Regions from separate parts of the Homo sapiens genome. Here all the other regions are linked to region 1. The links come from fine-mapping of genetic effects on gene expression. A gene starts in region 1. Each other region holds a variant in brackets. All regions are shown on one strand. Distances are between the middles of the regions.

The links.
Region 2: its variant is fine-mapped to the expression of LINC01239 in subcutaneous fat (GTEx, PIP above 0.99). The same link has a PIP of 0.9 or more in aorta, atrial appendage, breast, esophagus muscle, gastroesophageal junction and minor salivary gland.
Region 3: its variant is fine-mapped to the expression of LINC01239 in sun-exposed skin (GTEx, PIP 0.96).
Region 4: its variant is fine-mapped to the expression of LINC01239 in esophagus muscle (GTEx, PIP above 0.99).
Region 5: its variant is fine-mapped to the expression of LINC01239 in prostate (GTEx, PIP 0.95).
Region 6: its variant is fine-mapped to the expression of LINC01239 in tibial artery (GTEx, PIP 0.93).

Annotation. Positions count from the first base shown.
Region 1 is chr9:22,643,274-22,648,352 of GRCh38, reverse strand. LINC01239 (long intergenic non-protein coding RNA 1239) reads right to left here and starts at 2,153. Exons shown (of 6, transcript NR_038977.1): 1 at 2,057-2,153.
Region 2 is chr9:22,764,509-22,769,587 of GRCh38, reverse strand. All of the region lies in intron 4 of LINC01239 (long intergenic non-protein coding RNA 1239), which reads right to left. Among named protein-coding and RNA genes, the nearest start is that of LINC01239, 120 kb to the right of the region's middle. The variant G/T (reference allele first, on the strand shown) is at 2,423.
Region 3 is chr9:22,551,536-22,556,614 of GRCh38, reverse strand. No RefSeq gene overlaps it. Among named protein-coding and RNA genes, the nearest start is that of LINC01239, 92 kb to the left of the region's middle. The variant T/C (reference allele first, on the strand shown) is at 2,886.
Region 4 is chr9:22,498,016-22,503,094 of GRCh38, reverse strand. No RefSeq gene overlaps it. Among named protein-coding and RNA genes, the nearest start is that of DMRTA1, 54 kb to the right of the region's middle. The variant G/C (reference allele first, on the strand shown) is at 2,087.
Region 5 is chr9:22,483,471-22,488,549 of GRCh38, reverse strand. No RefSeq gene overlaps it. Among named protein-coding and RNA genes, the nearest start is that of DMRTA1, 39 kb to the right of the region's middle. RefSeq lists an enhancer at 4,399-5,026. The variant A/G (reference allele first, on the strand shown) is at 1,984.
Region 6 is chr9:22,667,738-22,672,816 of GRCh38, reverse strand. All of the region lies in intron 1 of LINC01239 (long intergenic non-protein coding RNA 1239), which reads right to left. It overlaps LOC107987054 (LINE-1 retrotransposable element ORF2 protein-like), which reads left to right. Exons shown (of 3, transcript XR_001746635.2): 2 at 183-309. Among named protein-coding and RNA genes, the nearest start is that of LINC01239, 24 kb to the right of the region's middle. The variant G/AG (reference allele first, on the strand shown) is at 2,465.

The DNA of each region.
Region 1 (5,079 bases):
CCATTTGTTCGAGTCAGTCTTTTCCTTAGAAATCTAAAAGAATTTTCATATAACTCTCTTAAAATTAGTATTATTTTCTCTCTATCATATACACACACACTCAATATTTTACTATACCCAGCACTTTGGGAGGCCGAGGCGGGCGGATCACGAGGTCAGGAGATCCAGACCATCCTGGCTAACACGGTGAGACCCCGTCTCTACTAACAACAATACAAAAAATTAGCCAGGTGTGGTGGCGGGCGCCTGTAGTCCCAGCTACTCGGGAAGCTGAGGCAGGAGAATGGCGTGAACCTGGGAGGCTGAGCTTGTAGTGAGCCGAGATAGGGCCACTGCACTCCAGCATGGGCGACAGAGCAAGACTCTGTCATAAATAAATAAATAAATAAATAAATAAATAAATAAATAAATAAATTTTACTATAAAAGAAGACATTCCTGTGTGTGTATGCTAACATCAACTGATACTATTATTTGCACTTTGTCCACTTGAAATACTTTCGTATTATCACCAAACTCACTTTCAAATCCCTTTGTAAAGTACTGAAGAGAAAATTTAGAAAAGGGTATGAGAAAGCAATTCACATAAGAAAATAAACAGGTAATATAACGGAAGTAGTATCTATATTTGTGAGTCACAAAAATGAACTAGAAATCACAGTGAGATATCATTATTCACTTTACACAAATGAGAAGATAGAAATAAAAGCATCGGCTGGGCGCGGTGGCTCACGCCTGTAATCCCAGCACTTTGGGAGGCCGAGGCGGGTGGATCACAAGGTCAGGAGATCAAGATCATCCTGGCTAACACAGTGAAGCCCCGTCTCTACTAAAAATACAAAAATTAGCCGGGCGTGGTGGCGGGTGCCTGTAGTCCCAGCTACTCGGGAGGCTGAGGCAGGAGAATGGCGCTAACCCGGGAGGCGGAGCTTGCAGTGAGCCAAGATGGCACCACTGCACTCCAGCCTGGGCTACAGAGTGAGACTCCGTCTCAAAAAAAAAAAAAAAAAAAGAAAAGAAAAGAAAAGAAGTAAAAGCATCAATTTCACCACAAAAAATTAATTTGGAGGATAAAGTATAATATGAGAACCCACTGGCATGATAATAATCCAGGAATTATACAGACTTCCCCCTGTTAAAAGCAATGCTAAGCTAGATCATGTGTACCAATTTACAAAGGTAAAATCTTGCTCTCTGAGGGCAGCTGTCTTCTAAGACAAAAAGGGTGGAACTATTCGGAGCATGTCTAATTGATTTTTTCCAAATTTATTAATCAGAGTGAATCACTCCATCTTCTCTGGTAGATAGTGAATAGAAGAGCAGAGAGAGGCAAGGAGTGTAGCACACGGAAGACCACATTCACCTGGAAAGAAATATCAGGACTGAGGACAAGAATTCCTCTCCACACCTTCTCCCCACCCCATCACCCTGCCAAATTCCAGTACAAAATAGTTTCACTAGCTGGTCTATCATAGCTTTGGAAAATCCAATAGTAGAGATTCAGTTATTTGAATAGAGTTTCTTTTTTAATAACAAATGACCCCAGGAGGCAAAATACCGATAAATCCTATAACCTTTAGTATGTTATCAGAAACGAAAGTAGCCTTGAGAAAAGGAGAGATCAGACTGGAAAAAGGAAAACGGACTCAGAAACTTAGTTATCTCAGCTATGAAAATTAGGTAGTTGAACTCCTTGAAATACAGGGCTCCATCCAATACTATGTACCAATTGTGGGATAACTAGAAGTAAATACAGAGTTAAAACTGTAGTCTCAGTTGTTGTCGGTAATAACAGCAGAGATTGCAACCTAAAGGGAATGTGCAGCACGATCAGATGCACACAATCTATTTTCCACTTCTCTAGTGTGTCTCAGCTTGTTAAGGTTAAATACAGAATTTTTTTTCTATTTTGCTTTATCTGTCAGTATAAGATAATTAAAAAGAAGTGAACTTCCTTCATCCATTTATCTTGGATGGCATGCACACTTTATTCTGTTATCACCAAAAACATAAAACCTAGAGAAAATGCAAATTAAAATTTTTATAAATGTACATACCACATAGTTTTATAGACATCTATGTTCCACTCTTAAGCCAGGGTCAAAGTAGAATTCTCTTTGGTCTCTCTTCCCTTAGAGGAACAGAAAATAAAAGACCGAGAAAACAGACTGTGATGGAGGATTCATTATAAGCCAAAACCTGAATCACCATAATTACACACAGTTCATAAGTGCAAATCGTACCCATCTCTTGGCAGATTAAAAAGCCAAGTGATGAGTAATATTGCTGAGCTAAACATGCCTGTTTCATAAGCCACTCAAATCAACACTCCTGTTATCCCTTGACACACAGGCAAAAATTCTATCTGTAAGCCTAATAAAATCTCATTTGTTTTACCTGAAGGTCCTATGAACCACCTGGTGCCTCTCTTTGCACTTGTTTTTCTCTATTAACTTATGCTTTGTAGAAATTAAGGCTTTAATCTGATAATTCTTTCCACTAGCTTTTAATTATTAGGTTAATGTGTGAATTTGAAGCAAGCAGTCCAATATGAAACTATTAAGAAAAAAGTTGAAAATGCTGAATGATATTAGAAATTCTAGACGGTAAAATTTAGACAATAATTAGTCTTCTGATTTTTCCTAATGACAGTTTGTAGGAAATACAGGTTGAGCATCTCTAATCCAAAAGTTCAAAACTGGAAATGCTCCAAAATCTAAACTTTTTGATTGCTGACATGATGCCACAAGTGGAAAATTCCACACTTGATTTCATATGACAAATCTCAGTCAAAACACAGACAGAACTTTGTTTCAGGTACAAAGTTACGTAAAATATTATATAAAATTATCTTCAGTTTTGTGTATACAGTGTATATTAAACATAAATGAATTTTGTGTTTAGACTTGTGTCCCATCCTTAAGATGTCTCATTATGCATATGCAAATAAATATTCCCAAATCTGAAAAAAAAAAAATCTGAAATCTGAAACACTTTTGGTTCCAAGCATTTTGCATATGCGATAGTCAATCTATACTGTACAATGCTAGGTTATATTCACAAAAGAGTTGTTCACAACAGTCTCAACTTTTGATTAGAAAGTTGTTATTGCGGTAGCTAAATCTATAAACTTTTTAGCACATCAATATGGTAACTGCTACACATAAATATAAAATTTATTTTTAGCTTTAAGTTTAATGACTTCTCTTTAAAAAAAAAGCTAATAGTCAAATACAATGTATGTTTTCAAATTTAAAATATTTTTGCTTAAGAGTAAGATTTAAGCTTAGTGACGAGAAAAAACCTGAGACGTTTCTTGAGATATAAATATTGTAGCCTTTAATTATTAAGTGTTTTCAGAAGCAAAAATTAGCAGCCAACTATTTGCTAATAAAGAATTAAGTAACTTGTACTTTAAATACCTTATTGGTAAACTTACATCCTTTTTCTTGAAGAAATCAACCATACTAAGAAAAAAACTCACAGAAAGTTTTGTAAGTCAAGTAAAGGTTTGGTCTTAACACAGGCTCAGTTATGATGCCTCCACTGAAATTTGTTCAAGTGTGGCAGAATATGACAAAAATATTCCCAGTTTCTGTCGATGTATGAGCAGAGAAAGAAAAATGTCTATTGTTTGTCAAGTCACTAAAATTTCATGCTCCCTATTTTGTTCTTTTTATTTTTTCATTCTATGTTGCTCTGTCTCATCTGAGATTAGTGCCCTTATAAAAAGAGATATGAGAGGGCTTGCTTCTTTTGGCTTTCCTCCATGTGGGAATATAAGGGAAAAGCAGCCATCTGCAAACCAGGAAGCCAGCCTTCACCAGACACTAGATCTACTGACACCTTCATCTTGGACTTCCCAGCCTCCAGAACTGTGTGGTCACATAAGCTACCCAATGTATGGTGTATCTGTTTTAGCTGCTCAATCTAACACACATGGAGGAAAGCGGACAGGACACAAGCCCTCTCATATCTCTTTTTATAAGGGCATGAATCTCATTCCTAGGGTTCCACCCTCATGTCCTAATTACCTCCCAAAGGCTCCACCTATAAATACCATCATTTTAATGATTAAACTTCAACATACTAACTTGATTTGGGGGTAAGGGTATGCAGATATTCAATCCATAGCATCCTGCGACCTCCTCTTCTCTAACCCTCCACCAACCCTTGACAATCATGAGGAAACTGACACAAACTATATAACTATATGCTTATATTTTTTCTATCCCCATCTATTGCTGGATCATTTTCTATTACATCTTTGCCTTATTACATTCCAGAATATGAGTTTATCCACAGAGAGCTCATTGCTTCCTGAGACTGTTCAATTATGATTTAGACAACACTAATTACATTTCTTTTTAAAAATATTTTTTTCTGGTGTTGAACCAAAATCTTCATCCCTTAATTTTCCTCCATGGGTTCTAGTTCTGCCACCTGTTTTCTACATAGCAACTCTTTCAAAATATTAAACTTCAGATTTCACATGCTTCTGAGTTATTTGACTTTTCTCCATAACAAGTATCAACAGTTGTTTATGCCATTTCTCATATAAAGCACTCCTTGTAACTGAGGAACACTGTGGCTTCTACCCAAGGAGGAGAAACTATGCATATTTGAGTGGTGAAGAAACTGAAACTGAGTGTGAGAAATCCAGTTGATATAATAATCCTGAAAAAACATTAATGTTAAAAGCATGCATTCAAAGAAGATATTCTTAGGCAATTTTCTTTGAAGTCCATGTAGATTTCCTGCTTTTTTGAAAGTATTTAAAATCAGAGAATGTAATGAAAACACCTGGTTTCAAATGCCAGCTCCACAACAGCATAGGTTTGTGATGTTAGGCCAGCTTCTCTACTTCTCTGAGTATCATTATCTAAAAGTAGGGGAAAAGAGTCATTAATTTGAAGTTAAATGAGATAATATTAATACATTTAAAGTGCTTTAGTCAGTGGCGAGCTCATAATAATTCACTACATATTAGTTATGTTTTTATATTCACTGGAAAACAATCAATAGTTTTCTGTAAAGTTGATGGATTGCAAAATGGGGAGGAGGGAATCTACAGATTTCA
Region 2 (5,079 bases), 120 kb before region 1:
CTCATAGTGAAGATCTGAAAAAGATCCTTTTGTGGCTCTAGCAGAAGAAGGGAAAAAGAAATAAGCTAACAGCATCCTTCTATTACAAACGCCTACTGTCCACAGGATAAAGCTTTGCCATAGCTTTATCCTACTTGGAGGAATGGGCTTACTCTCACTGCAACCCTCTTGAGCCTTCCTGTTTCATGCACAGTGAAAGAAGGAATTTAAGAAACACTTGTGAAGGTCAGAGCCAGGAGCACAGGCCCAATAAAATAGCAAAATTTAATTTTAATATTACAGAATGCTTCCTCTCCTTCACAACTTACCACCAAAAAAACAGGGCTCTAAAATAATACATTGTATTTCAGCTAAAAGAGTTGTGAGACAAAGATTATTTGAGGAGGAATACTGAGGGAAGCCCAAGTCAACCAGTGACACAAAAATAAGGTCACTGGAGAAATTTGAAACCTCTGACACCTGCAGACGCATACACATTAAGCACAGCCCATCAGATATTAAATACAGTTTAAAGCACCCAGATTAACAAAAACCTTTACACTAAACGTGTACTTCAGTTTTTATTACCTGATACATCATGTCTGACTTTAAACATGGCAAAAGGCAAGAACGAACAGATTCTGAAGAGAAAAAAAGTATCAAAACCAGATGCAGATATAAAGTTGACAATGAAATTATCAGAGAGGGGATTAAAATGAACTATAATTAATATATTAAAGGCTTTAATGGAAAAAGTAGAAAATTTTTTGTGAAGTTTATATGAGAAGATAAAAGACCTAGAATAAATAATCAACCTAATAATGAAGAAGAACAAATTTGGAGGACTGACACTACCAACAAAAGGAATCAGGGCTTCTTAGAGAAATATCTAATTCTAAGACGTGGGCAGTTAATATGCAAGATGAGTTTTTGGCATCTTATAGTGTTTGAAAATGAAGAAAAATTTAAAAAGTGAAACAAACATACTAAACACAATGATGTATTATGTCAAAGGGACTAAGAGTCACCTGAAAGAGCTCCCATTGTCCAAAGCTGGAAACATCTGAACAGTAAAATAAAAGGTGGTATTGTATTATAAGCCAAAGTATAAAGTACCCATGTAATTATCCATGAATCCATATTGATATGAATAAATGACTGAACAAATAGAGATGAATGTCAAATAATATATGTAGATACTCTACCTTCAAAGAGGTGAAGCATAAATCTTTATTACTCAATTGTGAATTATGCGTAGTGACTTGCTTCCAAATGGTGCTATATAACAAGGGAGGAAAAAGAATAACTTTACAGTAAGAAAATCTGCAATTGCTACCTCATCCAGGTAATCATGGTTTACATCTACAATGTTATGTACACTTGGCATACTGTGATAAAATAGCTTTTCCACGATGATTTACCTCCATGCCTTACTTCTGTGCCTTCCCTCCATGTATCCCCATCATCCCAGTCTAATTATAGGAAAGCATCATACAACTCTCATTGTGGGAAATACCTGACTGTACTCTAGAAAACTGTCAAGGTTATAAAAACATGATTATCAAAATTCTTGTCTGAGAGTGTCACAGCCAAGAGGAGCTTAAGAAGACATGATGACCAAAAGTAATTTGGTATTCAGATGAAATCCTGGAACAAAAAAGAACATTATGAACAAAATCTGAATAGAATATGGATGTATTTAATACTAATGTATAAATATTGCCTAATTAATTGTAACAAATTTACCACACTAATGTAAGATGTTAAAACAGGAAAAACCTGCATTTATGGGGGTAATGGCAACTCTGTACTCTCTTCACAATTTTTCTGTAAATCTAAAATGGCTCTAAAATTAACAGTTTATTTTGAAAAAGAGAGAACAGGTAAACTTATAAAGACAGGAACAAAACTAAAATTAATACAGACTGTTCATTAGACAGTAGGAAAAAATGCTTGAAGAGCTGAAAGAAGAAAACCATAAACTTAAAATTTTATATTCATCAAAAATGTACTCCAGATCCTTCCTATTACATATAGAAACACGACATAAATGTTAACTATCAGTCTTCCTATCAGCATTGTACTGATGAACTAACTCATCAAACAAAAAGAAATATGAGCTATTAGGTTGGGAAAGTGTGATAGATTGAATTTCAGCCCAAATTCTTTCTCCCCTCTTTATATCTGTTCTTTTCGTATACAAGTTTCAAGTACTGTCCAAGTCTGGGCAGGAAATTTTACTCAGCCCTTAATGTTGTGATTCATAGCTTTGGCCACGTGCTGTTTGTAAACAAGACACAAATAGAGACTTCGCACATACTTAGATAATTGGACTTGTTTACCTTTGCACCTCTACTTTCACCATGAGAACTTGCCCAAGTTATTCTGAAGAATGAATGTGGGACATATGGAGCTTCACTGCATAGCCAGCCAACTGTAGACA[G/T]AAAATGTAACTCAGGAAGACACAAACAAACAAACAAACAAAACACAAACCAAACAAACAAAAATCCCACCAAACCTAAATCTCTGATTTTCAAATTCACAATATGAATAATTATTAGAACAGTGAGTTTAAAGTCAACTTTCTACATAGTATTATTGTGGTAATACGTACTAATACAGAAAGAGTAAATTTTTATTCTAAGATGATATAATTTCATGTAGAAAATTCAAAATAATCTACAGACCATTATAATTCAAAAATGGATTAAAGAAGTTGGGTGGATCCAAGGTTAATGTAGAAAATTTATTTGTGTTTGTATATGCCAACAATAAACAATTATAAATAAAAATTTAAAATATGATTAATAATTTCATAAAAATTCACATAGTAATGATGCAGTAAAAGATATACAAGACTTTTATTCTAAAAATGTTGAAATGTTATTTGGAGAAACTAAAGAATACTTAAAACATTAGAAAGTTTATGAAAGTTCAATATTGTTAAGATGCCAAATTACTAAATATTGATCTATAAATTTAATATAGTTGCAATCAACATGTCAGCAATTTTTTTGGTGAAGATTGATGAGCTGATCATAAAACTTATATAGAAACAAAAGTTCCCCCAAAAAACGAAGACAATCTTAAATAGCAAAGAACAACATTAGAGGTCTTATATTCTCAAATTTCAAGACATGATAAAGTTATATTAATTGAGGAGTTAATTGTGCATTGTTAGACAAATAGACCAATGGACAGAAAAGAAAACCTAGAAATATACCCACATATTTCCAGTCACTCCAATATAGTCACCTAATTAGAGCAAAAGAGGATGGACTTTTCTGTAAGTGACAGTAGAATGTTTGGTTATCTATATGGAAAAATTATGAACCTTGAGATTTACTTCATACTATTCTTAAATATAAATGTGAATTTGATCTTAGACCTAAATCTAAAATTAAAGCAGTCAAACTTGTGTGGGGAAAAAAAAAAACAGAATATATTCCTGACTTAGGATTACGCAAAGGTTTCTTAAACAGGAAAAGCAATGACAACAAATATAAAACTCAACTGAATTACATTAAAATTAAAAACTTCTGTTTCTCAAAATCATGATTAAGAATTGAATAAGCAAGCCACAGACTGGAAAAAAATATTTACAATACAAGAATCTGGTAAAAGGCTTATATCCAGAATGCATAATACACTCCTACAAAACAATCAGGAAGAGGTAAACAATCCAAATTTTAAAATGGCAGAGATGATCAGGCAATTCACAAAGTAGCATATTCAAACCAAAGATATATGAAAAGGAACTCAACTACATTACTATCATTATTCATCAGGAAAATGCAAATTAAATTCAAACTAAGATTATAATTACACATTCACCGGAATGTTTAAGTAAAAAATAATGAATACTAAGTGTCAGTGAAAATGCGCAGAATTTTGCTGGTGGAAAGGAACATTTTTACAATCATTTTAGAAAACTCTTTGACACTATCTACTGAAATAAAACATAGACTACTATGTCACATAGCAATTCTTCTAAGTGCATACTCAGATAAATCTGGGCATATAATCACAAAGCACATGTACAATAACCTAATAGAGCTTAATTCATAACAGCTAACACTTAGAAGCAATGCAAATGTCCAACAGCAGAAAAGATAAACAAATTGTGGTATATTCATACAAAGTAACACTGAGCAATCATATTAAAAAGAACAAACTGCTGATATAATAAATAACTTAATAAATCTCTAAAACACTAGGTTGCACAAAGGAAGCCAGGCACAAATGAATATATATTTTATTATTACAACACTATGAATTTGAAAGTCAGGGCAAAATAACCTAATTGTATTTTGTCATCCTAACCTTATACAGGGAATCCAAATTCTCATAAATTCTTGTTCCTGGTAAATAGCCATCTAGCAAGTCCTGATCCTGATTCTCAGCCTCTATTAAGGTCCAGATCAGCAACTATCCTCATGGAAAAATGGTAAGAAATCTTCAGTTGCTTCACCACTCCCTGGAGAACTTTACACCCCTCCCTGTTTTTCCCATGGATTCTTCTTCTTTTTTTTTTCATATTTAATAAAATGTTTTATTTTAAAGTTAATTAATTCATTTAATTATTATACTTTAAGTTTTAGGGTACATGTGCACAACGTGCAGGTTTGTTACGTATGTATACATGTGCCATGATGGTGTGCTGCACCCATTAACTCGTCATTTAGCATTAGGTATATCTCCTAATGCTATCCCTCCCCCCTCCCCCAACCCCACAACAGTTCCCACTGTGTGATGTTCCCCTTCCTGTGTCCATGTTTCTCATTGTTCAATTCCCACCTATGAATGAGAACATGCAGTGTTTGGTTTTTTTGTCCTTGCGATAGTTTGCTGAGAATGATGGTCTCCAGCTTCATCCATGTCCCTACAAAGCACATGAACTCATCATTTTTTATGGCTGCATAGTATTCCATGGTGTATATGTGCCACATTTTCTTAATCCAGTCTATCATTGTTGGACATTTGGGTTGGTTCCAAGTCTTTGCTATTGTGAATAGTGCTGCAGTAAACATACATGTGCGTGTGTCTTTATAGCAGCATGATGATTTATAATCCTTTGGGTATATACCCAGTAATGGGATG
Region 3 (5,079 bases), 92 kb after region 1:
AAACATTTTAATTAAGATAGGTACATTATTTTTTCACATCTGATAGACTACATAAGTATAAACAAAACTTTTATATGTACTGGGAAACCAAAAATTTGTGTGACTTGCTTTATTTTTATATTTACTTCATCATTATAGTTTGAAACCAAACCCACAATATCTAGAGGTATACCTGTAATTATATTAACATTTATAATCTTAAATAAATTTCTTCAATAGCAACATGATTTTTAAAATACATCAGTTATATATTCGACTCACACAACCAGGAAAAGAATCATAGAGTTAAATAAGAATAAGAAAAGAAAAATATAATAAAAAACAAAGAAAAGAGAAATTGTTAAAGTTTTAATGAAACCTGTCTTAGTTGGCTTGGGCTGCTATAACAAAATACCACAAATTGGGTAGCTTATAAACAGCAGAAATGTATTTCTTACAGTTCTGAAGGGTGGAAATTCAACATTAGTTTGGCAGCATGGTTGGGCTCTTGTGAGGGCCTTCTTCTAAGTTGCAGACGGCCAGTGTCTCATTGTATCATCACATGGTGGAGAGTAGGGCAGAGAATGAAAGCACTGTCATGTGACTCTTATAGGCATTAATTTTATTCATGAGGACTCCACCTTTATGACCTCTCCTACTCCTAATTACATCTTGAAGGCCCCACCTCCTAATACCATTGCACTAGAGATTAGATCTCAACATATGAATTTTAGTGAGACACAAACATTCAGTCCATAAAATTGTTCTTTGAAATGATTAATAAGATAGACAAATCTCATGCAATTTGCATCAAGTTTGTAAAGGAAAGAAGAAACTAACAAATAATACTAAAGTATTGAGACAAAAATTTTCTGTAGCAGGACTGCTTTCTTCTTTATCATTTGATGCCCACCTATGTGGGGCCACCTTTCACTTTCAGACTTGGAGAAAAACAGCCCACCTACGGTTGGGTGCCTGGATTTCTGGGAGATTATTGAGAAGCTGGCTGATACAACTCAGAAGTGTGGTGTTGATAGCTCTCCCTCCTTTCTTTTCTATGGATTCCCCCATGGTAGGGTTCTTTTTTATGAACTTTCTGGAGAAGTATTGAGAGTTTAGACACCATCTAAGAAATATGCTATCTATAAGGTGATAGCCTGAGCTATATATCATGTTGGCGAGGCTGGACTTGATCTCCTGATCTCAGGTGATCTGCCTGCCTTGGCCTTTCAAAGTGCTGGGATTACAGGCATGAGCCAACATGCCCAGCCAAGCATAGCTCTTAATGGAGGACTGTTAAAGTACATTGTAAGAAAAGCATATGGGGTCAGAGATATGTTGCAGCCATCTTTGAAAAATAGAATCTGTCCCACAGACACTATCAATGTTCTTGAGGGTGTGACAAATCAGTTACTCTCATAAACTGCCAGTGATAATGCAGTTTGGTTCAGTGGCTCAGGAGGACAGTTTGGAACAACCAAAAGGCATATACCATGTAATATAGTATTTCCCCTACTATTTTCCCTATATACTTACATAAATTCTAATAAATACATTTATTAAAAATTGTGGTGTTTTATAAGGAAATAGTCTAAATTTTCCTCAATAGAGAAAGTATGATATCTAATATATATAGGCATATATATGAATATATATATATTTTTTCATTCACAGTTCGTAGCTCATAACTCTCATAACCATTGTTACAGTATTTTGTTATAATGTTGGGGCAATTTGGGCCTTAGAAGCGACCTCAGGAAACAAAATCTCTCTCTCTGACCCTCTCCTGTCCTTCTTTTACCTGCCCATGTCAGGACTTTAATCTGATTGTGGGTCATAAGACCCTCATTCCAGAGAGGGTCCTGCCCCATACTCTGGAAGAAGATATGTTGCACAAAGACTAAGAAGGACCTAACAGACACGACTTGCTGGGTTTAGATCATACCCTTTTCATCCAATTACATTTTGATGCAATTGTCCATGTTTCAGTGAACCAATTAAGTCTCCATAAAGACCCAAAGGACAGAGTTCGGCGATTCCAGAAAACTGACCGTGTGATTCCTCCAGATTCCTGGAGGATAGCATACCCAGGGAGGGCATGGAAGCTCCCTGCACCTTCCGCCATACCTTACCTTATGCATCTCTTTATCTGTAGTCTTTGTACTATCCTTTCTAATAAACTGGCAAAAATAAGTTTTTCCCTGAGTTCTGTGAGCTGCTCCAGCAAATTAATCAAACCCAAAGAGAAGGTCACAGAAACCACAAACTGAAGTTGGTCAATCGGAAGTTTCAGGGGCCCAGACTTGCGACTGGTATCTGGGGTAATGGGTCCGTCTTGGGGACTGAGCCTTAAACCTGTGGGATCTGACACTATCTCTAGGTAAAGTATCTGAATTGAATTGGAGGGCACCCAACTGGTGTCTGCTGCTTGGTATGTGAGGAAAAATCCCCACATATTTGGCCATAGAATTCTCCTTCTGTAATGATGATTGTTGTGTTGTGTGAGAGCAGAGGAAAACACAGTTTGAGAGAGTTTTGCCCTTCAGAGAAAGAAGGAAAATAAGACTTATATGTATGATTGAATATCATAAATTATTTTTTAAATAAACAGAAACTACACATACACACACAATGAATTGATCTCAAAACCAGTGTTGAGTAAGAAACTTTTGGACAAGCTCATTTGTATGACAACTGTTTGGCATATTATCTGCAGATGTATATATTAACCTAAGTTTGGAGAAAAAATTTTGACCTGGATTTCTGCCTTTAGATATATATCAGGGCAGATATCCCAAAAGACTCTCATTCTAAAATAATTTGAAGTATTGGCTAAAATATTGGAAAAAAATTAACTTGGAGCTTAGCTCTTAAGCAAAGGGATAAAACAAAGATAAAATTAATAA[T/C]ACCAGAATATTAACAATATTAATATCAGGATATTAACCTGATACTGAAACTGCAGCTGCAGTAAAGGTATTTGTTCATCTTGGTAACAACAGTCTTAAGAGAAAGTAAAAAGACAGTACCTAATAGAGAACAAACACATAATTCATTTTGAAGTCTCAAAAAGCAAAATCTACATAGACAGAGAACAAGAGTGCAGGGAGATACTGACTACAAAGCACACACAAATATAAATTTTAGGAAGGTAATAGAACTGTTCTATAGTTTGACGGTAGTAGCTACAAGGTACCTAGCATTTGGAAAAACACATAGAACTGTACACCAAAAGAGTAAATTTTACTAGGTGTAATTTTTTAAATAAATAAACATCAAAAAATTACTTGAGAAATTCTCAGTGTTTCTAAATTAAACAACACACTTGACAATAACCATTGGGTTAACAAAGAAATCATAAGTGAAATTTAGAAATATTTTCAATTGAATGATAAAATGTGAGATATCAAAATCTGTGAGATGCAGCTAAAGCAGTATTTAGAATATTTATTTATTCGTTTGTCTATTTATTTATTTATTGAGACAGGGTCTCCCTCTGTTTCCCAGGCTGCAGTGCATTGGCATGATCATGGATCACTGAAGCATCTAACTCCTGAAGTGAAAACATCCTCCCACCTCAGCCTCCTGCATAGCTGGAACCACATCTGGCTTACTTATGACTTTAAATGTGTGTATTAGAAGAAAAAAATATCTAAACTAAATTATCTAAGTGTCCATCGTAAGAAACTAGAAAATGAAGAGCAAATTAAACATTAATAAGTAGAAGTGGGGAAAAAGTAAAGATCAGAACTGAGACTAATGAAATAAAAAATGGAAAACCAATAAAAAAAATTATGACACAAAAAGCTGGTTCTTTCCTCACTAGATTAATCAAAATTACAAAAAACACCCATTTTACCAAAGGAAAAATATACCTCAATCATGTTGTTTAAAAAAAAAAAATTTAGCAAGCAGAACTTGGCAATATATAACTTGTAAATTCCACTGACTTTCCCCAGAATTGCAATGCTAGAAGGTAAAACAATCTTTATTCCCACAGAGACCAAAAATGTGTTTCATAAAATTCAAAACTATTCCTGATTTAAAAAATATTTTAAGCATGGGAATAAATAAATATTTCCTTAACTTTATCAAAAAAAAATCTGCCGAAACAAAAACCCTCGTCAATAGTGAATAAAATTCTAAGTATATTTACATTAATATTCACCTGGCAAAATGTATTCATCTTTCAAAATTCATCCTAGATATAACATCTCCAAATATTTTTGGCACGTCTTTTAACACTCTCCAATAATTTGCTATTTTCTCTATAATAATATCATCTTCTACTTAATTTCTACTTAAATTTGTTCATTTAAATGTCTTTCTTCTAAATTTGAATACAAATTCCTTAAAAACCAGAACTTTGTTTTATTCTTAATAATTTTGATTTCAAATGTTTATATAATTTTTAGCACACAGTGTTTAACATATGGTTCAGATTTTTAAAGTGTATATTATTTTCTTTACTTTTATATCCTGAAAGTTAATAATCATTCTTTTTATTGTAGATGTTTAATAACTTTAATAATTTGCTGAAAGTTAATTAAAAAGAAGAACTGAAACTCAATTTTAGATACCTACTCAACTCAAATGTTTTCACTTTAGTAACGCTATATTAGTTGCCATTGCCGCTATAACAAATATTAAACATTTCTTGGCTTGAAATTACACAAATTTATCATTTTACAGTTCTTCCCAGTGAGATCTATGTGGGATAGATCTGTCTAAAATCAAGGTGTTGGCAGAACTGCATTCTTTTCAGCAGACTTCAGGGGAGAATCTGTTTTCTTGACTTTCTGGGTTCTGCAGGCTGCATACCTTGCTTGGCTTGTGGCTGTCTTCCACTTCAAAGCAAGCAACTGTTGGTCATGTCTTTCTCACATAACAGCACTCTGATTCTGACTCTTCTGTCTCCTTCCTTCACTCTTAAGAACCTTTGTGATTGCATTGGAACCACACATATAATTCAGGATAAACTCTCCATTTTAATGTCAGCTGATTAGTAACCTCAATCCTCTCCTTCCCACGCAACATAACATATACACAGGTTCTGGGGAGTAGAACATGGATCTTTTGGGGAAGATATTATTCTGCCTGCCA
Region 4 (5,079 bases), 150 kb after region 1:
TGAACAATGAGAACACATGGACACAGGAAGGGGAACATCACACTCTGGGGCCTGTTGTGGGGTGGGGGAAGGGGGGAGTGATAGCATTAGGAGATATACCTAATGTTAAATGATGAGTTAATGGTTGCAGCACACCAACATGGCACATGTATACATATGTAACAAACCTGCACGTTGTGCACATGTACCCTAAAACTTAAAGTATAATAAAAAATTTTTTTAAAAAAGTAAAATAAATGAAAATATTAAAAGGTTAGTTTGATCTTCAGTGAAGGAGATTGTCAAGACAGGAAAACTACAAGCCATAAAAGAATGGCTGATGGATGCACTCAATAAACATTTTTTAATATTTAAAAAAAAAGATTCAATGAGATCAGTTGTGTGTGGCCTCTATCAAAAGGTAAGCTCTCTATCACTGTTTTCTATTATTACCAGTATTATGACATATGTATATGAAAAAATTATTGGGCTATTGTGATGTTACTTGTTGAATTAAGCCAGCATCAACTTGCCAGCTTTATTAATGAGCCACCGTGAACTCTCCAACCCCAAATGAGTGATCCCAGCTGATACTATGTGTAACAGAAAAGATCTTTCTATACAGAGACTTGCCCAATGTTTAAATTAATGAACAAAATTAATTACTGTAATATTTTAAAGCCACCAAGTTTTATGCTGGTTTGCTACTTAGCAAAACAGAAGTATTAATATTTTGATACCAGAGATGAGATGCTGCCATAATAAAAGTTCAAATATGTGCCAATGGTTTTGGAACCAGTTAGTGAGCAGAAGCTGGAGGGGCCTTAAGAAGACTGCTAGTGAAAGCTTGAAAGGCCTCAACTTCAGGGATGTTATTTTTAAGGGCCTAAAGGGAAGTGGAAAAAATATCAAGGGAAGTAAGAGGAAATGAACCCTTTATAGAAAACTTCACAATGTCCACAGTAATGTGGAAAATAGGAAATATACAACATCTATTGAACTGAATAATCTAGCTATTGCAGAATATTGAAAGTACTACCTGGATTCTTTCTGCTGCCTATGATAAAATTCCAGAGGAAGGAGATGAATTAAAGAATAAACTGTTAAATATGAAAATATAAAGGAGTCAGGACATGCTGGATTAGAAAATGAAACTGTTTCTCATCCACAATTTCTCCCAACAGTGAATTATTCTCAAATTAGGAAAGGGCCTCAAACCAAAGATTGAATATCAGGAGGGACTGTAATATACTTTAAGATACTGTCACATAGCAGCATTCAGATAAACAAAAGCCCCTTTATGCATCTTAAGGACATGGTTACTGGCTCATATTCATTAAATAATAGGTATTCTAAGAATCTTCACAGCATTATCCCACAGCCCCCTCACAGAAAGCCCAAGGGAGAGAAAGGCTTATCTCAAAAAGATGGGTGGGAGTAGTTTTTGTCTAACAGAGTGAACCTTAGAAAGAGTTATAGAAAACCCACAACGTTTTTTAAAAGAATTGATCTGGCAGAAGCACCACCAATTTGGGCAACATGATACAGAGAAAGTTCAAAATGAAAATCGGTTTTTGGATGTCAAACATTATAGGCAGGAAGCAGGCTTAGAAGACAATTAAGTTGAAACTCATTTTTCTAAAAGAAAAAAAAAAGGATAATACAAATGGTGGAACAAAGTACCTAGAGGGCAGAACAAAGAGTCACAGAGAACAACCACCAAAGAATGAGTTAGCCCTAATTAGAGTGATATGGTTTGGCTGTGTCCCCACTCATATCTTACCTTAAATTGTAGTTCCCATAATCCCCACATGCGGAGGGAGGGACCCCGCGGGAGGTAAATGAATCATTGGGGAGGTTTCCCCACATTGTTCTCATGGTAGGAAATAAGTCTCACGAAATCTGATAGTTTTATAAGGGACTTCCCCCTTTGCTTGGCTCTCATTCTTCTCTCTCCTGCCACCTTGTGAGGGAAGACGTGTTTGCTTCCCCTTCCGCCATGATTGTAAGTTTCCTGAGGCCTCCACAGCCCTGCAGAACTATGAGTTAATTAAACCTCCTTCTTTATAAATTAACCAGTCTTGGGTATGTCCTTATAGCAGCATGA[G/C]AACAAACTAATACACAGAGATTCTGGTAATACGGATCCAGCTTAAACAGAGCTGCTATGGACCTGTTGTGAGCCTTCCGTTTTCCTGCTTTTGAAGAAGAGTGTCTATAGCAGTTATCATATGTATTAAAAGAGAGAATATACTGTATGTTTAGTTCAAAGATCTTCAGATCAAGAAGAAATATACTCAAGAGAATGTTCCTGTATTACTCCATTCTCACACTGCTACAAAGAAATACCCGAAACTGGGTAATTTATAAGGAGAAGGGGTTTAGTTGGCTCACAGTTCCATAGGATGTACAGGAAGCATGGCTGGGGAGGCTTCAGGAAACTTTCAATCATGGCAGAAGGGGAAGCAAGCATATCTTACATGACTGGAGCAAGAGGAAGAGAGTGAAGGGGGAGGTGCTACACAGCTTTAAATAATCAGACCTCGTGAGAACTCACTACCATGAGAATAGCAAGGGGGAAATCTGCCCCATGATCCAACCACCGCCTGTCAGGCCTCTCCTCTAACAACGGGGATTACAATTCAACAGGAGATTTGGGCAGGAACACAAATCCAAACCATATCAATTCCCAACGAATTGTGCTATCTCTGGTTTAAATATCAAGATCTTGGACTCTGAGACTGAAGTTCACGCCACAATGGGATAAGAAATTTAGAGTTCTTGGGGAATCGATGAATGCATTTGGCATATGGAAGGAATCTAAATTGTGTGGAGCACAGCAAATTGTATTTTCTGAAGATGGTTACAACATCACCTGTTCCACATACTCTTCTTGAGGTATGAAGAGTATGAAAAGGAGGATTATAAACTCCTTTACATGGAAGAGTTTATAATCCTCTCTTTCAACCCAGGTAGTCTTTTGTGATTATCTCAGTCAACATCATATGGTGGAAATGAAGCTGTATGATTTTTGATTAGTAAAGGCTAAAAAATGCCATGCTAACTCTTAAAATCTAACTACTATGTGTTAAGGGAACTCATGAGTCTGCAGAGAGGCACACATAGAGAAGACACAGGGTTCCTAGTCCCCAACCTTGACTGAGTTAGCAACCAGCAGTCTGCACCAACTTCCAAGCCATGTGAGTGAGCCATTTTGAAAGAAAACCCTTTAGCTTTCCAATCAAGCAATTTCAGCTGATGCTTCTTACAGCACAAGCCATCTTCTTCACAAAGAGTTACTCAGTTGGAGATTTCTGGGAAAACACCTGATTGCTATTGTTTCAAGATACTAGGTTTAGGATGATTTGTTTCAAATAAATCGGTTACTCATACAGATTTTTGGTAAATCATAGGTGAATTGTTGCCAAGTGAAAATTCTGGGATTTTATTTTACTCTTTTATCTATCTTATTTTTCCTCAAAAATTTTGTATTAAATTTCTAATTTCAAATGACAAAACTAAAACAGATCCACTTATTATATGACAAGAAAAAAATTTAAATAATTGCTGCTATTTACAAGTAAATGCATATAAGAAAACACTTTTTAAAATGAAATCTTACTACCTAATCCCAAATAAATATGCCCACTTTACTCACCTAGGGTAAAACTTGCAGTTTAAAATATGAACATGGAAGTTTTTTGCTTACTTGTCTTCTTTGAGCTTTTCTGTTTTGCCCTAATTTTGGTTTTGTTTGCAAAACAGCATTTACCTTCAATTTCTTTGACCAGTTAATCACATCCACTTGCCAAAAAAATGCTCATACAAACTACTAAATTTTAATCTAATTTACAAGTTTTTGTATTTGCAATTATCTGTAGGAAATAATGGTATATTTTTCGGTGCTATATATATAATTTGGCATTTTCCCCCTCTAATCAACATATTAATGTTGTCTACTTTAGACTTTATCTATTGAAATGTTTACATCATCAATTCAGAGGATTTGAGCCATATTAAAACTTTTTCTGCACTATATTGACTCACATAGGCTGTATGCTACTCAGTCAGCTTTGTCTATATATCTGGTCTGATATCTAAAATGTTTCTTCTTTTTGGCTTGGCATTTTCTTTGAAACTAACGTTTGCAGATACTGTGTTTGACCAATTTCATTTATACTAAGTCATCTGCAAGTAGACAATTACACGTTTTCTATTGATATCAACAGACTCCATTATACTAAAATGTTCCTTTTTTCTTTGAAGTATCATTTTTACAATAAAAAGTCAAACACATAAAGAAAAATAAGGAAGACTTTAAAAATGTAATAAATGTGCACTCATTGACAACAGCTATCATTTCTTGTGTATTATCTATAAGCCAGATATTTTATATATTTTGCAAAAATTTGATGTATACACATGAAATGAGAGAAAATATTTGCAAATCATATACTGATAAAGGGCTTAATATATAGAATATATAAAGATCTTCTACAACTCAACAACAACAATGAAAACTTCACTTAAAAATAAATGAAGACATTGTATTAATTTGATAGAGATGCCATTAACAAAGTACCACAGACTGGGTGGCTTAAGCAACAAATATTTCTCACTGTTCTGGAGGCTACAAGTCTGACAGCAAAGTATTGGCAAGGTAGATTTCTTCCGAGGCCACTCTCCTTGGCTTATAGATGGCCATATTCTCCCTCTGTCTTCACATCGTCTTTACTGTGTGTGCACACCTGGGTTCAAATTCCCTCTTCTTATAAGACAGCAGTCATATTGGATCAGGGGCCACCCTAATGATCTCATTTTAATGGAATTACATCTTTCAAGACATTATCTCCAGATACGGTTACATTTTGAGCTATTGGGGCTTTAATATGTGATTTTTGAGGGGACGCAATTTATCCCATGACAGACATGAATAGGCATTCTCCAAAGAAGATGTACAAATGGCCAATAGCATGTGAAAAGATGCTCAGTATCACTAATCATCAGGAATGCAAGTCAAACCTACAAGACATCACTTCACATCCTTTACAATGGCTAGTATATATTTTTTTAAGAAACAATAACAAGTGTTACTGGTAAACA
Region 5 (5,079 bases), 160 kb after region 1:
TTTAAGTATAAGAAACAGAACATCAGAGAAACGCAAATCAAAACCACAGTGAGATACCATCTCACACCAGTTAGAATGGCAATCATTAAAAAGTCAGGAAACAACAGGTGCTGGAGAGGATGTGGAGAAATAGGAACACTTTTACACTGTTGGTGGGACTGTAAACTAGTTCGACCATTGTGGAAGTCAGTGTGGCGATTCCTCAGGGATCTAGAACTAGAAATACCATTTGACCCAGCCATCCCATTACTGGGTATATGCACAAAGGACTATAAATCATGCTGCTATAAAGACACATGCACACGTATGTTTATTGCAGCACTATTCACAATAGCAAAGACTTGGAACCAACCCAAATGTCCAACAATGATAGACTGGATTAAGAAAATGTGGCACATATACACCATGGAATACTATGCAGCCATAAAAAATGATGAGTTCATGTCCTTTGTAGGGACATGGATGAAATTGGAAATCATCATTCTCAGTAAACTATCGCAAGAACAAAAAACCAAACACCGCATACTCTCACTCATAGGTGGGAATTGAACAATGAGAACACATGGACACAGGAAGGGCAACATCACACTCTGGGGACTATTGTGGGGTTAGGGGAGTGGGGAGGGATAGCTTTAGGAGATATACCTAATGCTAAATGACGAGTTAATGGGTGCAGCACACCAGCATGGCACATGTATACATATGTAACTAAGCTGCATATTGTGCACATGTACCCTAAAACTTAAAGTATAATAATAATAAAATAAGATAAAATAAATGGAAAAAAAGAAAAAAAAAGAAACAACAAGGAAAGGCAAGAGTGTTCACTGAAAAATAATTTGGAAATAGATTTTGAAGCTCTAAGTTATGGATTGAGAAGAACAAAGAAATGGGTAAATTAAAGATGTAATTGATAGGAAAAATAGAATCTAGGAACAGATTTGATAAAGAACGCAAAGACAAGAAAAGAAACCAAAATGACTTTGAATATTCCAGACTGACACACAAGGAAAAATTTTAAAAATCAGAGACAAAAGTAGAGAAACTGAGAAAAAGAACACTTTTACTGGAGGATTGAGAACACTTAGGAATGACCTACTTAGCTTGGGACTTACTGTATTTGAGAAGCTGCCACAATATCTGTTGACTTATTCTGAAGACAGTTTGAAAGCAAAGAACACTAGCACAAGTGATGACCAAGAACAGGAAAAAGCAACTTTAAAAACTAAGCATGTAATGATAATTAAAGACATGATAGGTTGGGTCACTTTGAAGAATAATTGGGAGGCTATACAGAGTTGGTAGAAATACTAGAAATAAGAGCAATTAAGAAATTAAGAAGTAATGTAAAATAATTTAGCATAGTTCCTGGTATATAGCTGATTCAATCTTTTGTTTGTCATTTCATCAGTTTTTTAAATACCTTCTACAGTAATATATAGGGCTAGGATTTAGTATCTGTGTGTAACAGATACCTTCAAAAAATCAATAGATGTTAGAACCTCTCAAGCATGCTTTAGAAAATGTAAACCATATTTTTGCATATTTCAGAGCATTTGATAGAATCCCGCTTTTGACCTCTTAACACCAACATTATCTTAGAATGATTATACCGGGAATAAAGAAGGATGAATAGAAGGAAATATCACTAAAGGTACAGCTGAGTACCAATGTGTAAACTGATGGCCATAACGAACATTTGCTTAAGACAACCAGATAAATACCTGTAACTTATAAGATGTACTCATCTGTATATAAGTGTTGGGCCCCTGCTTTCATGTTTCCTATCATCTTTGAAATCAGATATTTGTCATGCAATCCTCTGTGCATATCATTTGATAGGTATTTGTCCAACATCCTAAAACCAATAACATTGCCTAACAACACAGCAGCTGCAACACTAGTGTGTGTTTAGAGAACGCTGAACCCACCAGGATGAAACCAAGACTACCTAGCTGGATAGCTCCACCACATATTCTCACA[A/G]GTTTATAAATTTGACTTCATAATAGTTACAACAAAAATCATTCTGTTCCATTCAAAGTAAAAATGGCTGTAGCTCTTCATCAGCATCTTTGAAAGCCTAAGTCTGGCTTATATATTTATAGATGCAGACATTCTAATGTCATAGACTAAACTGGCTAAGTCACGTCAAGGAACTCTAGCTTTTGACATATGCAGAACCAATAAAGATCTGCTAAGTGCCGTTATCAAATGCAGTCCTATCAACATATTTAAATACTTGGCTTGGCATTCTGATAACAACTGTTGTACCTCTTAGCAGCTTGGTGAGTAAGTACCTCTATAATAAGCATTACAACAGAGAAGGAAACAAGTCCAGCGAAAAAAACAAATTTCTCCAAGACACCTTGAATGGTAAGCACAAGGCAAAAACATGTTTTCACTAACCTTTTCTGAAATCAAACCTCATATTTCTCCCATACCATTATCCTCTCCTTGCAACAGAATGCAAGGACATAAATAAGCAGAAATAGTCAGTGTGGTTTTTCTAGTGACTGTGATTTCCAAGGAAACCAAAATCTGCAAAGTTGCCCCTATTACCTTATATAACATACTTCCCTTCCATCCCCACTTGTCTCAGTCTCACCTTGTTATTTCCTTTTTAACACTTAATGTATAATTATTTTTCTTAGTACTTGTCACATACACTAGAACATAACATATCTGAAGGCAGAAGAGTATGTATCTACTTTAGTGCACTCACTTTACCTAGCTTTTAGCACAATGCCTAACATATAGTAGAGTTTCAATAAATATTTCTTAAATGTATAAAGAGTTTAAGTCTTTAATCCATCTTGAATTAATTTTTGTATAAGGTGTAAGGAAGGGATTCAGTTTCAGCTTTCTGCATATGGTTAGCCAGTTTTCCCAACACCATTTATTAAATAGGGAATCCTTTCCCCATTGCTAGTTTTTGTCAGGTTTGTCAAAAATCAGATGGTTGTAGATGTGTGGCGTTATTTCTGAGGCATCTGTTCTGTTCCGTTGGTCTATACATCTGTTTTGGTACCAGTACCATGTTGTTTTTGTTACTGTAGCCTTGTAGTATATTTTGAAGTCAGGTAGCATGATGCCTCCAGCTTTGTTCTTTTGGCTTAGGATTGACATGGCGATGCAGGCTCTTTTTTGGTTCCATATGAACTTTAAAGTGGTTTTTTCCAATTCTGTGAAGAAAGGCATTGGTAGCTTGATGGGGATGGCATTGAATCTATAAATTACCTTGGGCAGTATGGACATTTTCACGATATTGATTCTTCCTACCCATGAGCATGGAATGTTCTTCCATGTGTTTGTATCCTCTTTTATTTCATTGAGCAGTGGTTTGTAGTTCTCCTTGAAGAGGTCCTTCACGTCCCTTTTAAGTTGGATTCCTAGGTATTTGATTCTCTTTGAAGCAATTGTGAATGGGAGTTCATTCATGATTTGGCTCTCTGTTTGTCTGTTATTGGTGTATAAGAATGCTTGTGATTTTTGCCACTCCTATTCAACATAGTGTTGGAAGTTCTGGCCAGGGCAATCAGGCAGGAGAAGGAAATAAAGGGTATTCAATTAGGAAAAGAGGAAGTCAAATTGTCCCTGTTTGCAGATGACATGTTTGTATATCTAGAAAACCCCATCGTCTCAGCCTAAAATCTCCTTAAGCCGATAGGCAACTTCAGCAAAGTCTCAGGATACAAAATTAATGTGCTCTGAAGCTTTTTAATAAACTTTCACTCCTGCTCTAAAACTTGCCTTGGTCTGTCCTTCTGCCTTATGCCCTCCTTGGTCAAATTATTTCTTCTGAGGAGGCAAGAACTGAGGTTACTGCAGACCCATATGAATTTGCCACCAATAACAATAATACTAATTTACACAAGAAAATATGGTTTATTATACATCACTGATGAAAACAGGCACTCTTATTCATAACTTTCTTTACCATGCTTCAGGACAGAAGACAAATTTCAACGTATTTTAGCCCCGCATACTCTCTTCAAAAATCCAGTACTTCTGAAATAATATAATTGGGGAAGGTAAGGTAATACATAAAATAAACACCTTATAAGGACTTTACATCCAACTTTACAATTTATGCAACAACTCAGAGAAATTCTTTAGCCTCTCTGTGGCATCAAGAAAATAGAAGAAAAGTGTTCTCTCACCTGCTAAATATACCCCCTTGAGTATATAGCAAATAACATTTTGCATCTTGGAATATAGGCTGTTTATAAACATATAACAAGGATTATTAATGCTAAGTTTCTACTATTATGTAAAAAAAGGAAAGAAAAAAATGTCCGGACTGAAATTATCTATCATTCACACCATGGCAAGTAGTTATCACAGCCCATATGGAGTGAAGATTACCCAGAGCTGAAAGTTCCAAGAGAATGTGACAAGGTGACATACAGGAGTCAAGTGCTGTATGCTGGGTGCAGCTCATTTCTTAGAGGTGCAGAACTTATGATATGAAAAGGATATACAGAAGCCACCATGCCAACAGGGGTGAAAACTGGGGAATCAAACAAATGTTGCTGATTCAAAGTTGTTTTCCTATGATAACAAACAGCACCAAATGAGTTGCCATGGTGGAGAGCAAGCTGTGCTCAGAGACTAATTGCTGCACTTGTTAGAGTGTGCAAGAAGGTGTTTATCTGTTTTACATGTGTTTGGTGCCAAGACATCCTGGGGATCTGGAGCTGAAGCGGAAACAGAATGACAGTGTTTAGAAAACTAAACATAAAAACAAAAGGGAAGGAGAGCATTTTTTGTGAAAGTGACTTGAGCATTAAGCATATGAAAAGCTTGAGGCTTCTATCCTGGGTGATTAATTCTTCAGTCTCCTTCAGATCAACCTGTGGGAGCCCATGCTGGAATGGAGTGTATTAAGTCTGGTTCTTTGATGTTATTTTATTTACATGGTGAATTGTTCAAAGCAGGAAGGATCACTTTAAGTGCTACCAATAGAAGTAAAAGGGAATAAACTCAGGAAAAGGAAGGAAGTGAAGCACAAAATGTGGTTTTTCAAACAGTTCCACCTGAATGGCAAAGTTTAGAATATGTACTATGGGGAATTTGCCA
Region 6 (5,079 bases), 24 kb before region 1:
GTATCCTTACCTTTGGAAATCACACTGTGTTTTCTTTGAAATAATAGGGAGGAATTTGTAAATCATACTGGTCTTTGGCAAATAAAAACCAACTATCTGATCGAGTGCAATTCAAAACATTAAAAAAAAAGTTTCTCTACAGTGCAGCCATCATTAATTCCCTGTTATTTACTGTTTTGTAGTATAAAGCCTTTCCATATCTGCAGTAAAGAAGGTAGTTTTACATAACAATGATGACTATGGGCACTGGAATTAGCAAGTCCTGGATTTGAACCTTGGCTTTGCCACTTACTAGCTGTGTGGTCCCAGGTAAGTTGACAAGTTTTGTAATCTCATTAAACTCATCCTGTTAATTGAAATAAGAACTTACGAACAATCACATGTAAAGCTCTTACCACAGGATTCACTATCAACTAAGTCCTGATGGCATTTGTTGTTTTCTATTGGCAGATAACCTCCATCCATTATGTAAATACTACATAAACATAGAAAGTTATTAGCAACTTATAAAATTAGTGAAGTAGTAACATTATATAACCATTGGTCTATAACCAAACTCAAATTTGAAGTAAAGTAATATCCCTGTTGGTATGCATTTACATAAAATCTGAATTGTACCCCAATGAAGAAGGCATAATAAGAGAATATCAACTGTGATAAGCCAGAGGTATCTAGAGGAATACTAATCACTATCTATGTAGTACGTTTCCTAGAGAAAACTTCGGCCTCTCTTCACAGAAACAGCAGGTACTTTTTAGCCATGTCAGTGTGTATCTATTTCTACAGCTTACAGATGTCAGTTGTATTATGATCTACATAAACTGTGAACTACTGATTTTAGACATTCTTTGGGAATTTTTAGAAACAGGAGAGTACTTAGCACACTGATCCAGACATCTCTCCTGAGAAAAGTGACAGGATCCACCATAAAATAGGGGCTGACATGCTTCTATAAGCAGTACCTTTCAAGTTGGCTTTTCCTGGTCAGTGCTATGCAGTTATACAGATTTAAGGTTAGCATGGATTTTCTTTCATTATTAGAATAGTTCACTCATATCATACAGCAAAGGCTTTTATTCTGCAAAACAGAGTCATACATCCTGAGAGATCTCAAGATATACAGACAGAGATAAATGTTAGTATTTTCATAAATAAAATTGTTCTTTTGCAATCATGAATACATCCATTCCTTTTGATTTTTTTTCTGAATTTCAAAATCAAAGATTAAGTCATTATTTAAAAACTCTCAAAACTCTGTGAATCATAGCTGTTAAGATGATGGGGTATAAAATTACAAAGCTTTAAAAGTGACAGTTTATTTTGATTTTATCATGATGTTAAGAAAGTAATTTTAAATGATAGTATACTTTGTCACTTTCCACGCAGGGGAATGAGGAAATATATACATACACAAGCACACACACACACACACACACACACACACACACGAAGTATATATATCCATAGTATACACATGGCAATATGTATGTGTTTTTGTGTGTTTGGGTGTATGTTTGAAGTGTTAAAAACACGAAAGGGTGGGTAAGGCGATGAAATTATTTACCTACTTTTTCTTTCACTGTAACCTTAAGCCAATGTCTGGGATTAAGATAAAATTTCAGATGCAATTAAGTAAGTTCACAATAGTATTGTTTTGTTTTTGCAATACCTAGAACCTCTTAGGATATAAAAAAATTAAAAATCTTTGGTTACAAACCTTGGTTTCAGAAATATTGCAATGTTATTATCTGGTTTTATTAATTTGTTCTCTGGTTTACAAACTTTTAATGAATAGTTATTAGGTTCTCAAATTTGTGCTAGGACTAGAGATAGAGAAATGTAAGATAAAAGACCTCTATCAGGTTGGTTTCAGTCTTCTGAGGTAAACAGAAGTAAGGAAGGGTCACCACAGATTATGGTAAGTGCCCAAATAAAAGTATGTGGATACTGATGAGAGACAGAGAAATGGTTACTTCCCCATACTGGGCTTTATGGAAAGCTTGAAGCTGACTTGAAGAATGAGTAGAAGTAAGTGACAAAGAGAAATAGAGAAGGGCCCTTCAAGCAGAGAAAAAAGCAAGTGGGAAGTTGCAAAAAGTAGCTGGCATTTAGGAAATAACCAAGAATTCAATATAGTAGAAAGAGGGAACATATGGGAAAGTCCTGAGAAATAAGACTGTGGAAATAGGAGAAATTTTTTCAAATGTTTCACAAACTTCTCTTCCTAGGATAGAACAAGAACACAGTTCTCCAGCACCGAGAAGCATTTTATGTGAGGCAGCATAGCTCAATAATTTATGAGTATGGACTTCAGAATCAAATAACCTTGATTGCAATCTTGGTTCTGTCACCTACTAGCTAAATTTTCTCGAGTAAATGCTTTTAACTCATTGTGTCTCACAAAATCATCTATAAAGTGAAGATTAACATAGCACCTACCTCCTGGTTTGTTGAAGATTAAAAA[G/AG]ACCTAATACATACAAAGCATTTAAAAGAGTGTCTGACATAATAAACTGTTTTCCTACTTTTATAAAGAGAACAAAGGAGACAGAGTTCACAGGAGGCAGGCCTGTTTCATCCAACTATGTTATGAGAAACAATTTTGTAGAGTCAAAATAGAAAGTGGGGCTTCTTGACATATTGATAAGGGAATGAAAAAGAACTCTGCTCAGAGGGAGGAGAACAACTAAAGCACCATTCATTGTTTACATGTTAGTGAAAATGAGCATGTAATGTCCATTCTTTGGAAAAGGAAATTATATGGAGAAAAGGTAGGGGAAATTAATAAACCTAAGCCATAAAATGGAAGAGGACATAGGAAGGACAAAATAGAAATCATGGTTAAGCCCTTCTTATTTTCCCAAAAAATCTGTTCAAGTTTTAAACCTGTGCATGCAGTCTTTATCTAGTATTTTATCAGACATAGGGTAGTAAAACCTCTTAAAAGCCTTCCTCAAACCCCAGAAGAATAGTTTTCCGAGGGGATTAATAGTGCTAACTGTGTATTGGTTTTGTTCTGAGATTGGGCAAGACAATAAAAGCACTTCATGGTAAAGGTGTAAATCTCTTTTCCAAACCATAAGGATTGAGAATCTTTGCTGCCACTATTAATTAGCGACTCTAAGATAGAAATATTCATATATTTTAACACACATATTTAACACAGATTATCTAATACTGCAAGTCAACTATGTCAGTAACTTCCCAGAGTTAGTGCAGATCCCACAGATCAAGGGCATAGTCCCCAACAAGACTGCTCTCATTTTAGATGCCAGAGGAAGAGGTCTAGGAGGGTCTTGAAGGCCCTCTCTCCATGGAATCAGGACCATGTCACCCTCCCAGCACATTGATGTGTCCCCAACCAAGAAGCTCATCTGAGCCCCAGTGTCCAGAGTTTTTACTGGAGTCTTGCTATGCAGTGCGATTGCACAGGATTTAACTCAATCTCCAATCCATCTCTCTTGCCCAGAGGTTGAACTGATATCATCTGGTTCAAAGCACCAACCTTCTAATTACATGGTTGGTTTTTCTGGCATAGTCTGCCTTCATGCTGAGCTATCTTGTTAACATAAGCTATCTAAAAGTCCACCATAAGTGACCTTATAAGCATAAACCCAGAGACTATCATGAACAACACAAATACTCCTCTCCCTTAAGAAATGTCTGGGGTTTAGAAGTTCTATCCCAGGAATCTGGGACAAAGACCAGAAAATTTTCTATTATTATACAATACACATACACACATGTGCACATATGTAAATACATGTATACACATGTGCACATATACATATTTATTTAAGTGTCAAGTAGCTAAATAATAGATATGTTACATATACTGTTGGAGATACTGAAAGAATAATAAACAACCTCTAAACTTATGAAACTTAGAGTTTGATTAATGAGCTGGAGGTGGATAGAATGGTACCAGAATATTTAGTACTGTCAGAATCCAGGAGGAAAAGACAGCAAAATGGAAAAGATCAAGAGAAATCCATCATGTGCCCACAAATAAAAACATTTTCCTTAACACCAATCTCATCATTTTCACTCTTTCTCTGGCACACTTAGGCAAAAAGAGAATGAGATCAGAATTCCATTTACCCAGTAGGTTTGCTGTCTTTAACTTAGCTTCTTTTTATACGATCAGTAAAATTATAACCCTTTGAAACAAAAAAATTTTGGTTCGCTTGGAAGCTTTTATTAAGATATAATTAATAGTTAGGAGAAATTTTACTAGGCATTTGGAATGAATTGAACTATTGCCTAATTATTATACTAAGAAATTCTTTTATAGAAAGAGACTTGGGCATCCAAATCATTTAGGAAACTAAAAAATACCATTTTAAATGAATTGTTGTGGTATTTATGTATTGAAGCTCTCCAAAAAATGTATAAACTGAAAACTATAAGCCTAAAATGAATATTTAAAACCCATTAGCACATTGTTCCTTGCTAATTGTACAATTTTGTATACAGTGAAAATTTAAAATACCTTAAGGGTTTCATGACATAAGCCATTTTGAATTTGAAATTTTGTTTTATTTCATTGCACTCTTAATTTACTGGTTAGTACTATGTTAATACAGTCATTTAACTTTCAACTTTCTTTTTTCTAAATTTCTTTTATTTTTAACTCCCCAAGAATCTTTAAAACGAACGATAGCGCATAGGCAAGGCACTCCAGCTCTACTTGTCTAACCCTAGATGAAAAAAGACATTAAGTAAAGAAAATAATCATTAAAGCATCTTTTACAGTTGGCTGAGGGACTGTTATGATTGGAATGGGAGGGACATTAACTTGCACATTACTCAAAGCAAAGTATAATAATATATTTTACAAGTTAAAGAGGCTTTGCATTGTAAAAGATAATTTTCAACAATATAGAGAAAAGAGCTGAGAAATTTCAGAATATCTTTCTATCTGAGTACACTCAATTTAAACACATTTGATCTCTAGTAGGTCTTAGGAGTTGGGTACAAATGTTCACTGTGAATGCAGAACCAACATGAATATGCCTCCACCATAACAGCACACTTCTGTTTATATGATCTACTTGGGTCCTTAGACCAGAAATCTTTTTC